Regions from separate parts of the Homo sapiens genome. Here region 2 is linked to region 1. Evidence: fine-mapped expression QTL. Tissue or cell type: whole blood. Region 1 holds a variant in brackets; the other region holds the start of a gene. All regions are shown on one strand. Distances are from middle to middle.

Evidence for each region. PIP is the estimated chance that this variant, and not a neighbour inherited with it, causes the effect.
Region 2: SLC18B1 starts here. The variant in region 1 is fine-mapped to the expression of SLC18B1 in whole blood (TOPMed, PIP above 0.99).

The regions. Positions count from the first base shown.
Region 1 is chr6:132,824,097-132,832,280 of GRCh38, reverse strand. No RefSeq gene overlaps it. Among named protein-coding and RNA genes, the nearest start is that of SNORA33, 11 kb to the right of the region's middle. The variant G/A (reference allele first, on the strand shown) is at 4,703.
Region 2 is chr6:132,794,451-132,802,634 of GRCh38, reverse strand. It overlaps SLC18B1 (solute carrier family 18 member B1), which reads left to right and starts at 3,998. Exons shown (of 14, transcript NM_052831.3): 1 at 3,998-4,221; 2 at 5,514-5,653. The coding sequence starts at 4,179. RefSeq lists a silencer at 3,931-3,980 and an enhancer at 5,212-5,712.

The DNA.
Region 1 (8,184 bases):
TATTTTAGAGAAAAAAACATGAGGTTCATATAAGTGAAATGACTTCTCTGTTGTTTCACAATCAGTAACTGCCAAAGCAGGATTCACATCCAAGCTCCCCTGACTATAAAGCCAGTGTATGTTGACCAACCACAAAATGAGAGAGAGAAAGAGAGAGAGATACAGATACAGGTACAGACACAGACATCTTAAAAGCCCTTGCATTCACCTCTCTGAGTTATCACTTTTCAAAGGCCTTAGTATGGACACCATAAGAATCTCCAATCTGATGCTCAGTGGTTGGCCCTACAAATAGACCAAGACTCTGTCAAATATCACATTTTAAAGCCCTTAGCATGTCAAAGAGGGTTAAAAATTAGTACCAGTGTCCTTGTTCACAATTACTTAATGAGAAGGCAGAACATATTGAAAAAGAAAAGTGAAAAATGTTTCAAGATCAGTTTTGCCCTCCCCACTATTTATGGAGCCCAGGATAAACCTCTGACTGCATTATGATTAAACATCTATGGTTTTCATTTATTCAAACTCACACTCAAGTCATTATTTCTGATATAGTAGCCCTGCCAGTTGACATAAGCTGCCAAGTGGTAGACTAAATTTCAGGTTCACGTTTGAATCTCTGGTGAACCCATAAAAGCTATATTTATGTATGTGATAGCCTTGGATTTTAATGGAAAAATGGTTAGCATATTAATAAAATGTTCTGCTTAGTACATACAAGTCAAATTTATGCCAACATGGAAAGGTTGCTTTCTCAAAAGAGAAAAAAAAAAGCAATCATAGCCTGAAGCAGATTATGTGCAGATATGAGGAAATTAAAGCTCAGATGTTAGTTAAAATGAACAACAAAAATCCACATTTTAAAAATAGGGTTTGGAGAAATATCTCCTAAACAAGGCTCCTAAGAATATAGAATTTAAAATGAAGATAAAGGCTGGAAGGCAAGTCTCCATTCAAAGAATGGAGACAATTTTTAAATCTTTTCTTTGAATTTTTGAATAATTCTTTGAATCTTTTCTTCCTTAACCAGGGTTAAAGGTCTAATATCAGCATCAAGGAAACTTCTATTTAGGCCTTTATTTCTCTTCTTTTACTTAAAGTTAATAAAATTTTTGATTTTCCAAGTGGCTGGTTAGATTTCCTGAAAGAAGCTAAGAAAGACTATTCCAAATTTTTCACAAACAAAACATAAGTAAATTTATTTACAGATATATAAAAAAATTCAACAAAATAAACCCAGTTTGTATATTACAGATCTGTGTTCCTTAGAAGTTGCTTCCTCAAGGAGAGGTATCCAATTGACATGAAAAACGAGCTGAGGCCTTGAGGTCCATGGATTTACCAATCTAATATTTTATCTCCTGCATTAACAGTTGTAGCAGATATCAGTAGTTTGGATCATGTATGTATTTTTTTGACCTGAGACCCAAGTTCCATATTATTATTAATGTATGCTTAGAAATTTGAGAAGAAATAAAGAAAATGAGTGTCTAGTGTTCTTAGAAAATTACTACTCCATAAAAAAACAGAGATTAAAAATCCTACAGCTGTAGAGCCAAGCTCTTTGTTATGCATGCACAGCTTTCTAAATCCCATAAAAATCTCAACATCTGACCCATTTCACTTTTACAGGGGAAGGGCCTGTTACACTGGAAAATATGCGTAAAAATCTGCAGCATTCAGAGGCATTAAACAGTTTTATTTCACATTTGTTTCCTATGTACCCTACATAGGAAACATACATTCCTCTGTTCTATGTACATTGTAGCACCTGCTGCTAAATCTCTACTCTCCATCAGCTCCCAGCCTTCTCTTTTCAGAAGGGATTGAGTGTCTTTTTGAACGGCTGAAGTAATGCTGCCATCTCCTGTTTGCTGGATAGAATGTAATGAAATTACCCTCGAAAGGAATGAAAAGTAAAATTGGATAAAACTACAAACTAGAGACTGTTGGCTCTTTTATAAATTTTCTCTAGCCATAGATTAAAAACCAATCTTATTCAAATTGACAATGTCATAATAATGTCTTAAATTTGATATGTCTTTAAATAAAAGTTATTCTAAAGAAATTTTGGTCCTTATCTAAACATTAAATTGGTACTTCACCTCATTTTTCAGAATATTGCTCTCCTCATGTTACCTAAATTTCAGTCATTTATTTTTTACAATGTAAACATGAAAAAAGTAAACTTTAAAAATAATAACCATATATATTAAGTTTTAATATTAGCTAAAGTGTTCTCAGGAAATTGATTTATCACCAACAGTCTCAAATTTAGAATACTCACAGAGAGTATGAGGAAGGCAAAAGTTAACCAAAACAGTAGAAATCACTGTCTTATTTTGGAATTTTACCAAAGTAGATACAAATAATAAAGTAACTTTAAAAAAATAAACTTTAAAAATTTATTTTTACCTCTAACTCTTAGAATCTGAAAACATATCCACTAGGGAAGTCCATGTCTTCAAAAATACATAGATTTTCTTTTGCTCTTATTCTTGCTATAAATCTCTTGGGCATTAATGTGATCATGTTCCCCAGGTTTTTGTGAATAGGAATAGCATTCTAGTTGAGGATGAGAATCTGTGTTTTAGGCTGACTAGTTAAAGAGATCCTTAAGAGACATTCTCTTTTCCAATTACAAACATCAGCATTCTGCTGACAGGGTCTCAGAAGAATGTGTACTTAACCCAGTATTATATTTAAAAGCCCAATTCCCCTTACAATCAATTATAGGTAGCAACACTCCTCATTTAAAGTTATTATAACCGCTTCTAAAAATTAATTCTTATTTGTTTATTTCATGGCAAGGCAAAGCAGCTGCTGTAATCTTTTATAAAATGTACCCTCATCATACACTTCCAGACTGGTTTTCTTCAAATCACTGTTTTCTGGGCAAATAGCTCCCCTTCTCTTCCCTTTTCTTTAAACGTGTCTCCTTGGCCTTATTAATTCACCTGTGTTGCTCCCCTACTGAAGGCTTGACAAGACTCAGTGTTGTAGATCCCTCTTTCTGGAGAATTCACCATGCTGAACCACTGTTGTTGGTCTGGATAGTACGAAATAAGTAGAGATCAGGAAAATATTGCACAGTTTTTGCACAGCAAACCTCAGAAGTGCAGAGCATTGCAAATGAATGGCTTATGGAATACTATGTTTGTACATTTGAGTTTTAGCTTTGTATAAACAGTTTTCTTCCAAATCTCTACATGCCTTTTGTGGAAGCTACCTACCAATTTATAAAATATAATTCTTCAGGGCTGGGCACGGTGGCTCACGCCTGTAATCCCAGCACTTTGGGAGGCCAAGGCGGGTGGATCACGAGGTCAGGAGATCAAGACCATCCTGGCTAACATGGTGAAACCCTGTCTCTACTAAAATACAAAAACCTAGCTGGGTGTGGTGGTGTGTGCCCGTAGTCCCAGCTACTTGGGAGGCTGAGGCAGGGGAATCACTTGAACCTGGGAGGTGGAGGTTGCAGCAAGCCAAGATCACGCCACTGCACCCCAGCCTGGCGACAGAGCAAGACTCTGTCTAAAAATAATAATAATAATAATCCTTCTACTTATATTAAATACAAACAATTCTAATATTCGACAAAATGGCAAATCCTATAATCAGTCAGTTTACCCAATGTTCAAAGGCTTCTTGGGTCATGTCCTGGAACTTGGGGTTCTATCTTCTCATTTGGAAAATGAAGGAATCAAACTAGACCATTTCTCAAATCTCTTCCATCTTAAAAACTCAGACTCGGCCAGGCGCAGTGGCTCACACCTGTAATCCCAGCACTTTGGAAGGCCAAGGCAGGCAGATTACCTGAGGTCAGGAGTTCGAGACCAGCCTGATCAACATGGTGAAACCCCGTCTTTATTAAAAATACAAAAAAATTAGCTGGGCATGGTGGTGCACGCCTGTAGTCCCAGCTGCTTGGGAGGCTGAGGCAGGAGAATTGCTTGAACTCGGGGGGCAGAGGTTGCAGTGAGCCGTGATAGCAACACTGAACTCCAGCCTGGGCGGCAGAGTGAAACTCCGTCTCAAGAAAAAAACAAACAAACAAACAAAAAACAGAAAAACCTCAGACTCTAATTCCAGTAGAATCTGCAGTGGAAAAATATTGTCACATCAGGCCTAAATTCTCTAGAGGCAAGAGAAAGCATGTTCTCCAGAAACACAGGAAAGAAAGTAGGAAGGTCACATTTTGGTCTGGCCATATAATTACTTCTAGAAAATAACAAAACCAATAATGATAATAGAGACAAGGTGGCTGCTGACACTCAGGAAAATCACAATTGTCATTAATATTTATTTACCTTTGGTGACAGTATTAAAGAAGATCACTTATGTCATTAAGAAGAATACTATAATAGTTTGGGTTGTTTGCTTTAATTCCCTGAATTTTGCATCTTTTAACAATAAGCTAACTTTGGGAAATGATCATCATAAACATAAATATACCTTCTTGTTTTATATTAAATGGTTAGTCTTAAATAAACCCTTGTATTATGTAAGAGTCCTTCCACCATGGTAGACTCTCTTCAAAAGACTAAAATAAAAAATGAAGCAATTTGGGAATCCCCTAAGATAACAAGATGTTATTATAAAATAAATCCCCATTATTTATTTGCACAATTATTTAACTATTATTATCAAGTCACTGAAGTAGAAATCAAAGAGTCTATAGAATTCTGGAATCACAGAACAA[G/A]GTTAAAAGGAGCTGGCTTACATGATCTTCCACTCAACTCTACTGAGTTTTGTTATTATTTACATATTATTTATATGTTGGGGCCAGGCACGGTGGCTCACACCTATAATTTCAGCACTTTGAGAGGCCAAAGTGGGTGCATCACCTGAGGTCAGGAGTTTGAGACCAGCCTAGCCAATATGGTGAAACCCCGTCTCTACTAAAAATGCAAAAATTAGCTGGGTGTGGTGGCTTATGCCTGTAATCCCAGCTACTCGGGAGGCTGAGGCAGGAGAATCGCTTGAACCTGGGAGGTGGAGGCTGCAGTGAGCTGAGATCATGCCACTGAATTCCAGCCCGGGTGACAGAGCAAGACTCCATCTCAAAAGAAAAAACAAATAAATAAAATAATATACATATATTATTTTTTGTTTGTCTTCCAATTTAGATAAGGCAATATAAATATTATTAAATATATTGCTTTTTTTTTTTTTTTTTTTGAGACGGAGTCTCGCTCTGTCACCCAGGCTGGAGTGCCGTGGCGCGATCTTGGCTCACTGCAAGCTCCGCCTCCCGGGTTCACGCCATTCTCCTGCCTCAGCCTCCGGAATAGCTGGGACTAGAGGCGCCCACCATCATGCCCGGCTAATTTTTTTGTATTTTTAGTAGAGACGGGGTTTCATCGTGTTAACCAGGATGGTCTCGATCTCCTGACCTCGTGATCCGCCCGCCTCTGCCTCCCAAAGTGCTGGGATTACAGGCGTGAGCCACCGCGCCCGGCCCTAATTTTCAAATTAGAATGTCTTAGTAGGAGAATAGAGTTAAAGTGCACAGGTAGAGGAACATTTTATTTGCTGCCTTAAAGATTTTCAGCACAAGTACAAATCCGTGAACTGACAATGATTGTAAGTTCTTTTCACTTCAATAAAATGCTATTTCAATTGAGACTTTCTGTGATCTCCAGAGAAAACAGTTACTCAGTTCTATCCAATGCAGTGAAAGTGGAATCAGTCAGATAATATTCAGTTTATTTACATTTTCTTTTTTTTTTTTTCGAAACAGAGTCTCGCTCTGTGGCCAGGCTGGAGTGCAGTGGCACAATCTCGGCTCACTGCAACCTCCGCCTCCCGGGTTCAAGTGATTCTCCTGCCTCAGTCTCCTGAGTAGCTGGGACTACAGGCACCCGCCACCACGCCTAGCTAATTTTTGTCTTTTTATTAAAGATGGGGTTTCACCATGTTGGCCAAGATGGTCTCGATCTCTTGACCTCGTGATCCATCCGCTTCAGCCTCCCAAAGTGCTAGGATTACAGGCATGAGCCACCGCACCCGGCCTATTTATATTTATTTTCAACTAACGATTGCATCAAGCTGAATTTCCAAAATAAAAAGTGAATGCTGGCATTTTGTTTTCATTTTTTAACTTGAGAAAATCACCAGCGTGGGGCAAAAAAAATAACAAGAATCCTCTGTACTAATTTATAGTGACCTGAACATTTTTCTCTCCCTCTGTCTCCCTCCCTCTCCATCCCTCCCTCACTTTCTCTGTCTCTTTTTCCCACTGCCTCCTCCCCAACACCAGCAAGAAATACAGCTTTTTTTTTTTTTTTTTTTTGGAGATGGAGTCTCATTCTGTCACCCAGGCTGCAGTGCAACCTCTGCCTGTCAGGTTCAAGTGATCCTCCCACCTCAGCCTCCTGAATAGCTGGGATACAGGCATGTGCCACCGTGCCTGGCTAATTTTTGTATTTTTAGTAGACACAGGGTTTAATCATGCTGGCCAGGCTGGTCTTGAACTCCTGACCTCAGGTGATCTGCCCACCGCCTCAGCCTCCCAAAGTGCTGGGATTACAGGCATGAGCCACTGCACCCAGCCTAATACTTCTGCTTTTAAAGCATTACCTCCATTTGCTGCAAATAAACTTTGAACACGGACTTTAAAAGTGTCCCGTACTGGGATGTATTGGATTCATTGGCCAGGCAGGTTTCTGACTCACAAAAGGTCGTGTTGTTGCCCATTGCTATGACAGGAGAAACACCTTCGCAGTTTTACTGCAATATAGAAGTTTATTTGAAGACCAGCTCACTTCTTATCGGTTTTATTTTTACTGCAACCCAACACAGTAGTGTCAAACCAAAGTGACTGTTAAACTTCATCTGTCCTGTATTCTATACCGAGCATTTCCAGAAGGCAGCAGTGCAACCCAAAATACTTTGAATGAGACTCACTTCACGAGACAACACTAGGCAACAACAAAGTTAATATGACAAGTCCGCCTTTTATGCCTTGATGATGCTACTAAAAAATCTAACAGATTTATTGTATATCATTTCCTCTTCACATACAACTCTGAATTCTGCTTTTGCACTTTAGCATCGTTCACATTATGTTATCATTTTCATTATTTTAGAGTAAACTTTTCTAGAGTCTTCACATGATAGAAATTTGGAATATAATATTTTGAAAAGGATAATTTTATTTCAAAATGAAGCTTGTGGGGAAATGTAGAAAAGGTTTTAATTTCTTCTTAAATTATATGTGTATTTCCTCCTGAAAGAGTGGCATAGCTGCATCACGTTACGACCCTCGTGGGGCTAAGTACCTCCCTGCAAGACACAACATGTACCCATTTAGCAAAACATCTGCTGACTCCTAGAATCCATCAAGTTTATCCAGCTTCAAATCTACAGGAGAAGGCAGGCTTTTTAATTTGTAGCATTTTATATGCTAATATTTTATTTTCCCCTTATGGATCTCATATTTATTTTTTTTTAATGTGCATTTTGCTTCTTTTCACCTGGGGGCAGCACTGTGAAATATCACAGACCTTTGACTCGGTATTTCTCTAACGAGCCAACCAAGTACAAACAGGATTTTTATATCCATTTGTAAATTTTAGTTGGGGGTAGTTGAGAGAAGGAAAAATAAAAAGACAAATACTACATTTGTGTAAGGTTTAATTCACATCACTCATATAATTCCGTGCTGTTGGCATATGTCTCGATAAATAAGCTTCAAAAAAGAACTTATTGCAATGTAAAAATAGTTTCTCTGAATTCACATGCTTTTTACTGTTCCCAGGTCTCACAATGGCCTTTAAACGTATTTTTTCAGCTTCTTAGAGCCATGTACTCCATATTGTGATAGGATATGTTTCTATGCCCTGCTCCCTAGAGTGGAGCTGGAGAGAAAGGAAGTTGAGACAGCTTGGCTCCACACTCGACTCAAAGCAGCCCAACCTAGAGACTTACTTTCGTTGCCAGAGGAAAAGGAACCTTAAAAAATAGAGGGTGAAAAAAGGCTGAGGAGTTTAAGACTGAAAAGAAAGCCCACAAACAAACAATTGAAATATCTGAGTTCCTACTACACCACGCACTGTCCTAGGCACGGGAGATAAAGGCTCAGAACATAGATGATGCTTCCATGGAGCTATGGTGTGGAGAATTTAATCTCCAAAGTATACCCCTTGCCTTGATCATCTCCAAATTATGCCCATTTTCCAG
Region 2 (8,184 bases), 30 kb after region 1:
GTATTTGGATAAGGGCATAAGAATGAACTTCTTAGCCGGGCGCGGTGGATCACGCCTGTAATCCCAGCACTTTGGGAGGCCGAGGCGGGAGGATCACCTGAGGTTGAGAGTTTGAGACCAGGCTGACCAACATGGAGAAACCCTGTCTCTACTAAAAATACAAAATTAACTGGGCATGGTGGCGCATGCCTGTAGTCCCAGCTACTCAGGAAGCTGAGGCAAGAGAATCGCTTGAACCTAGGAGGTGGAGGTTGTGGTGAGCCAAGATAGCACTATTGTGCTCCAGCCTGGGCAACAAGAGTGAAACTCCATCTCAAAAAAAAAAAAAAAAAAAAAAATGAATGAATTTCTTGGCCAGGTATGGTGGCTTACGGCAGTAATCCCAGCACTTTGGGGAACCAGGGCAGATGGATTGCTTGAGTCCAGGAGATTGACACCAGCCTGGGCAACATGGTGAAACCTCATCTCTATTATTAAATAAATAAATAATAAAAAAGAATGAATTTCTCTGAGGAGGTGGCATTTAAACAAAGACCATATTACTCCATTTTAGTTTGTAAAGAAACAAATATTCCATATGTGTATGAATGTCTAAATGAGCATATCAAACTATGAATAGATAATTGTGGTAGGCTGATAATGGATTCCAAAGATACGTCCACATCCTAATCCCTGGAACCTGTAAATGTTACCTTATATGAAAAAAAGGGTCTGTGCAGATGTGACTAAATTGGAGAACTTGAGATGAAGAGGTCATCCTGGATTATCCAGGTGGGCCCTAAATTCATTCAAAATATCCTTACAAGAGACTGGCAAACGAAGATTACACACAGAAAAGAAGAGGCACAGTGATCACAGAAACAGAGACTACAGTGATGTGGCACAAAATGCCAATAGTCACTAGAAGCTTCAAGGGGCAAGAAACAGACTCTTCCCTAGAGCTTCTAGAGGGAACATGATCCTGCTGACACCTTGATTTTGGCTCAGTGAAACTGATGTTGAACTTCTGGCTTTGAGGACCTTGTTTTAAGCTATCAAATTTGTGTTGATTTGTACAGCAGCCCCAGAAAACTAACACAATAATATATTTGATTATAAAACTGATTATCTGAAGGGAGAATGAGAGGTAGAGATTACAAGAGGAGCGGAGGATAGGGATATGAATAGACTTTATGTAAATTAAAAGTAGATGGACACATAAGAACATAGATTTTTTTGAGAACATAAAGAACAAGATTTGCATTAAACATGCAAGAATTATTGCAAATGGGGAGAGGAATGAGAATGGAGATACAAGGAAATAGATGGCAACAGAAATGAAACATTCAATTGGCAAGATACAGTTGGCAAGATTCAGTTGGCAAAAATTCAGATGGCAAGATACAGTTAGGGATACTTCCTATAACATGGAGGAAAAAAAAAGAAAAAATAATAACTAGCCAGGTGTGGTGGCACAGGCCTATAGTCCCACCTACTCGGGAGGCTGAGGTGGGAGGATCAGTTGAGCTCAGGAATTTGAGGTTGCAGTGAGCCATTATATGTCATGGTAGCTTGGGAAACAGAGTGAGACCCTGTCTAAAAAAAATAAAATAAAATAAAAGAGAGAAGAAAAAGAGAAATAAGTAAAAGGACCAGTTTGGGTGACCCAACATTCACATAAAGTGCAGTCCAGAAAGAAAATAAAAGAGGAAATGTAATCATCAAAGAAATCATTCAAGAAAATTTCCCTCTACAGATTGATGTTAGATTGAAGAGAAAGCATAGAGTTAAATGAGATTGGAGAAGCTGTCAGGGGTTAGATCATAAAGATTTCATAAGGCTACTTTAGGGAAACTTTGCTAGATTGGAACTTTCTTTTCTTTTCTTTTTTTTTTTTTTTTTTTTTTTTTGAGATGGAGTTTCACTCTTGTTGCCCAGGCTGGAGCACAATGGTGCTGTCTTGGCTCACCACAACCTCTGCCTCCTAGGTTCAAGCGATTCTCCTGCCTCAGCTTCCCGAGTAGCTGGGACTACAGGCATGCGCCACCATGCCCAGCTAATTTTGTATTTTTAGTAGAGACAGGGTTTCTCCATGTTGGTCAGCCTGGTCTCAAACTCTCGACCTCAGGTGATTTGCCTGCCTCGGCCTCCCAAAGTGCTAGGATTACAGGCGTGAGCCACAGCACCTGGCTTAGAGTGGAACTTTCTGTTCAGAGTGGTTCTCTAGGTTCTCCTTTACAACTTGCCCACTGGGGAATTTTTTTTTTTTTTTTTTTGAGATGGAGTCTCGCTCGGTTGCCCAGGCTGGAGTGCAATGGCATGATCTCTGCTCACTGCAACCTCCGAGTCCCAGGTTCAAGCGATTCTCCTGCCTCAGTCTCCTGAGTAGCTGGGTGCCATCATGCCCAGCTAATTTTTGTATTTTTGTAGAGACGGGGTTTCACCGTGTTGGTCAGGCAGGTCTCGAACTTCTGACCTCGTGACCCGCCCACCTCGGCCTCCCAAAGTGCTGGGATTACAGGCGTGAGCCACCGCGCCCGGCCCTCACTGGGGAGTTTTTACATAACCTTCAAGAACCAAGGTAACATCACTTCCTCAGGAAGTCATCCAGGACCCATTTGCCAAAGTAAATGGTTCTTCCAATATGTTTGTATACAACCGATTGCATTATAGTAGATTATTAATTAGTGTGAATTTCATCTGCTAGAAGGTGTGCTACTTGAGGGCAGAGTCTGGATGGGGCTCATTCCTCTTTAAATTCATAATGCCTGGCACAAAGTGGTAACTCAGTCTTTTGTTTTGCTTTGGCTTCAAAACAAGAATTTCCCAGTCCTTAAACTTTATTTATTTATTTGAGACAGAGTTTCGCTTTTTCACCCAGGCTGGAATGAGGTGGCACAGTAATTACAAACTTACTATCAGCCATACTGTGTACTGGAACTGACCTTGTACAGTGGATCTGAGGCAGATTCTCAGTCGATAAAGCTACCCTCACACAATTCTTTTGGATCTTGGCTCACTGTAACCTCCGCCTCCCAGGTTCAAACGATTCTCCTGCCTCAGCCTCCCTAGTAGCTGGGATTACAGGTGCCTGCCACCACGCCTGGCTGATTTTTTTGTATTTTTATAGTAGAGACAGGGTTTCACCATGTTGGCCGGGCTGGTCTAGAACTCCTGACCTCAGGTGAGCTGCCCACCTCGGCCTCCCAAACTGCTGGGATTACAGGCATGAGCCACCGTGTCCAGCCAGTCCTCGAGCTTTAACACTTCCCAAATAGTAAATACGGTGAAAATAAGTGAAACCTATTTTTTATGCAAGAAAACTGTGAGTGTGAGAGTAAGGTAGCAGCCATCATGTTCATGTGCTAACTACTAACACACTTTATCGCCAATGCTCACAGCCGCCCTACGAGATAAACATTATAATCTCAGTTGTACAGGTAGAGAAACTGACCTTGTCATCCAAAGTTACACACTGCCAGCAAGTGCCCTGGCTTGAATCCCTGGCACCTGCCTCCAGAGGTCGCACTCCTAGCCACTTCGCCATGCTTCCTCGATATTCATTAGTATTCTTGCAAATATTTTTCGACTCCAGGTGCTTCACATAGGTTAATTCATTTCCGGTTCAATAGTGTCTGGCTTCAGTAATTACGAACACTACCGCATTTACCCACTGTGAAAAATAATTCACTCTTTCAAAGTTCCTGTATAACCTAATTTTCTAATTCACTTTTGTGTCTTTCAGTTGAGGTACTCCCTGCCTTTTCTGTGTCTACATAAGCTTCCTTTCTTTCGTTTCGTAGGAATAAATTGAACTTATTTTAAGATTGAGGGGGGTACAGCTGTATGGAATATAGACTCATCTTTTTTCACTCTCTGTCACAGAATGAAAAAGGACACCATGATATAGCAGCTGAGGTGGTGGATTAAGATAATGAGGCGGGGGGGGGGCGCAAAACAAAAAAAAAAGGAGCCTTGCTCCACCCCTGCCCCGCCCCCGGCCTCCTCCCGGGGACCCAGAGTCCTGGAAGGCTTTGGGGAGCTCCGGGCCGGGCGGATCGCTGCCTGCAGGGAGTCGGGGATGCCAGGTTCCAGCTGAGCAGCGGCCGCCCGCCAGAGTGCCAGTGGCTCCTTGGAGGTCGAGTCCAAGGACGTGGCTTGAAGCCGGGAGCTGGGGCGCCGGAGTCCACGCACCGGGGATGGAGGCGCTGGGTGACCTGGAGGGACCACGCGCACCAGGAGGTGACCATGAATTGCGTGGCCGGGAGCCCGGAGACCAGCGGCGGCTTCCGGCGTGTCTCTTTAGCAACGATTGAATTGCTTATAGCTTGATCTGTTTCCGAGAGATTGGAAAAGGCTGGGGCCTGATCGTGGGGTTCGGGCCAGCGTTTCTTTTCTCTCTGGACGGGGTAAAGTTCCAGGATTGGATATGTGTCACGGTTTCTAATGACTTTCTAACCTATACCTCTGCTTTTTAAGTACTGTGTGTTTAATGCATTCAAATAAGTATGCCATTAGGCAAATGTAAAACGTTACCTTTCAAGTACCCATTGTTGTTGCCTTTCTTTTTAACTTTCATTTCCCTTTCTCATCTACTACAAACATTTTACAAAGATTCGTAAGACTTCCTCATGTTGCACTGATTTTTTTTTTCCTTCTGGACTGCAATGGCAACCTCTGACAAATAGAGCAAAGCAAATGTATTTCTCTTAAGTTTTTCCTAAAAACAATTTAATTTATAAATGGCTGATGGATTTGCTTGGATATTTGGAACTCAGTAATTGATTTCGTGTTTTTAAATGACAATTTAGCCCTGGAAATAAGTGTTAAATTAACTGATGTAAAAGACCAGTAATTAGGGTAAAAAAAAAGTATTTATTTATGAATTTGTGGGACTTGTCTATCCAGAAGCATACCGCTGTAAATATTAATTCACCAGCTGAATGATTTAGCTTGTTTTCTCCTACTTACACTTCATTTGACTTCAATACTGCCTTAGAAATCTTTGTTTTTTGTTTTTGTTTTTGTTTTTGTTTGTTTGTTTTGTTTTGCTTTTTTGAGACGGAGTCTCTCTCTGTAGCCCAGGCTGGAGTGCAGTGGTGCGATCTTGGCTCACTGCAAGCTCCGCCTCCCGGGTTCACGCCATTCTCCTGCCTCAGCCTCCCGAGTAGCTGGGATACAGGGGCCCGCCACCACGCCCGGCTAATTTTTTGTATTTTTAGTAGAGACGGGGTTTCACCGTGTTAGCCAGGATGGTCTCGATCTCCTGACCTCGTGATCCGCCTGCCTCGGCCTCCCAAAGTTCTGGGATTACAGGCGTGAGCCACCGTGCCCAGCCGAAAGCAGTACGTTTTCAAAACGGCAGTAATGTACAAGGATTGTGTTCCATTTGATCAAATGTGCTATATTCAAAATAGCCCTAAGCTTAGCAAATGATATCTTCAGAGTGCAACATATGTGCACAGAAATCACATTTGTGTACTTTAATCAGTAGTCTCAATTATATGCCTAATTGCTGCATGTTTGCATTCAAGGTGATGATCCTGCAGGAAGTGCAGGAGAGACCCCCGGGTGGCTTTCGAGAGAACAGGTTTTTGTACTGATATCGGCAGCTTCGGTGAACTTAGGTTCCATGATGTGCTATTCTATACTTGGACCGTTTTTCCCCAAAGAGGTAAGACATTTTTAAATCCTTAGGACCTCTGTTTTTTTGTTTGTTTGTTTTTTAAAAGCCTTTTGAATTATTTTATTTTATAGTATATAAAATGTAAAAATCTGCATATAGGACAGATGGTGTATAGAACTCCAGCCAATAGAATACTTCTTATAGAATGCCTGATACCAGGAAAAAAAATCCAGTCAAAAAGAACATCTTCTTGGGAGGTAATTCACCTAAAAGTAGTTGATCTTCTGAGAATTACTTTTCTTACCATGTAGTCTGATTAATCTTTATTTGGTTTCTGCAACTGAAACAAAGGAGTGCACTGAATAACTGAGATTCAAATGTTACTGCAATAGGTCTGTGTTAAGACAGTAACTATTTTCTCGAGGTTTTATTCACATTTTAGAATTAGGACGTTTTGATTCCCGACCCCCCTTCCTTTTTTTTTTTTTTTTTTTTTTCCTTTCGAGACAGGGTTTCGCTCTTGTTGCCCAGGCTGGAGTGCAATGTTGTGATCTTGGCTCACTGCAACCTCTGCCTCCCGGGTTCAATTGATTCTCCTGCCTCAGCCTCCCGAGTAGCTGGGATTACAGGCGCCTACCACCACGTCCGGGTAATTTTTTTTTTTTTTTTTTTTTTGAGATGGAGTCTCGCACTCTCGCCCAGGCTGGAGTGCAGTGGCGCGATCTCGGCTCACTGCAAGCTCCGCCTCCTGAGTTCACGCCATTCTCCTGCCTCAGCCTCCCAAGTAGCTGGGACTACAGGTACCCGCCACTACGCCCAGCTAATTTTTTTTTTTGTATTGTTTTAGTAGAGACGGGGTTTCACCGTGTTAGCCAGGATGGTCTCCATCTCCTGACCTCATGATCTGCCCGCCTCCGCCTCCCGAAGTGCTGGGATTACAGGCGTGAGTCACCGTGCCCGGCCGAATTTTTGTATTTTTAGTAGAGACAGGTTTTTGCCATGTTGGGCAGTCTGGCTTCGATCTCCTGACCTCAGGTGATCTGCTTACCTTGGCCTCCCAAAGTGCTGGGATAACAGGCGTGAGCCACCACGCCCAGCCCCGGCCCCGCTCCATATTCCCTCTTTTGACTTTAATTTCTTATGGACTCTAGCGCCAATGTTTATGCAAGGGAGGAATTCTGATTAATAGGGCCTATTCCTTCTAGGCATAGCCTTTTATATGGTGTTAAGATTTATAGCTAATGACACAGATTCAAAGATAATAATCCCTAGAAAGTCCAACTGGATTCTAGACGTCAATAGGATATAGTATGAAATGAATATGACTGGCTTGGAGTGTAGACAACATATCCATGTGTTTTATTTTGTGCTTTTTGCCAAATCCTTGGCTCACAGTGCAGTGGAAGCTTGTTAGTCCTCCAACTGCCTTTTAAACATGTAGTCCTTCGTTCTGTGTGTTACAAAAGAAGATAAAGTGGCTTCTCTGCTAAAGGAACAATATTGCCATGTACCCATACAGTGCTCTCTGGCTTCTAGTACACATTACCCCTTATTTATCCATTTAATCCCCGCAACAACCTCATACAGAATCTTGAGAATCTCAGCATGTTGCAAATGAAGAAACGGTCTCAGAAGTTGTGACTTGCCCAATTCAGTTCTATTAACTAGAGGTTTAATGAGTCCCTTCTCTAGAGCAGGCTAAGCATGGGATGTGTTAGGGTAGTATAAAAAAATCAGGGAAATGGCTTTCTCTTGTCTGCCCTTTGGGAGTGAAAAAATATGGGAAAAAAAAGGTTCCAATAATTTGGATATCCCTTAAGAAAAGGATGTCCAGAATGTTATAAGACTGTTTTTTTTTTTCTTTTTTTAAATCATTTTCTTCTGGCTTCCCTCTATCCATACTAATGTTATGAGAGCCTAGAAAGAAGAATGGTTAATTCTGCCATACATGGAGTGTGGATAGCAGAAGAAAGGGCGTTACTGAAAGGAACTTTCAGGCTAAATCTAAGTTGGGGCTTTTTTTTTGAGACAGGGTTTCACTCTGTCATCGAGGCTGAAAGTACAGTGGCATGATCAGAGTTCACTGCTGCCTCAACTTCCCAGGCTCAAGAGATCCTTTCGCCTCAGCCCCCTGAGGAGCTGGGGCACAGGCATGTGCCACCACGCCTAGCTATTTTTTTCTATTTTTAGTAGAGATGGGGTTTCACCATGTTGCCCAGGCTGATGTTGAGCTCCTGAGCTCAAGCAATCCGTCCACCATGTTGGCCAGGCCTCTCAAATGCTGGGATTACAGGTGTGAGCCACCGCACCTGGCCTAAGGTGGGCCCTAAGAAGTGTTAATTCTTATGGTGAACAACAGAGATGGAGGTGTTCTAGGTATAGTCACAGGAAGAGCAGAGTGAATGGCATGTTCCTGGGGAACAACAGACAGCTTCTTGATGTGGCTTGAGCCTGGGGTGAAGTGAGGTCTAATAGGAGACAGTGGATCTGAGGAGGCAGGCCTAAGATAGAAAGGAAGGGCACTTGTCAAGGACTTAGTCAGTGGGCAGTCATCAGAGGTGTTTGAGCAAGAAAGAGCA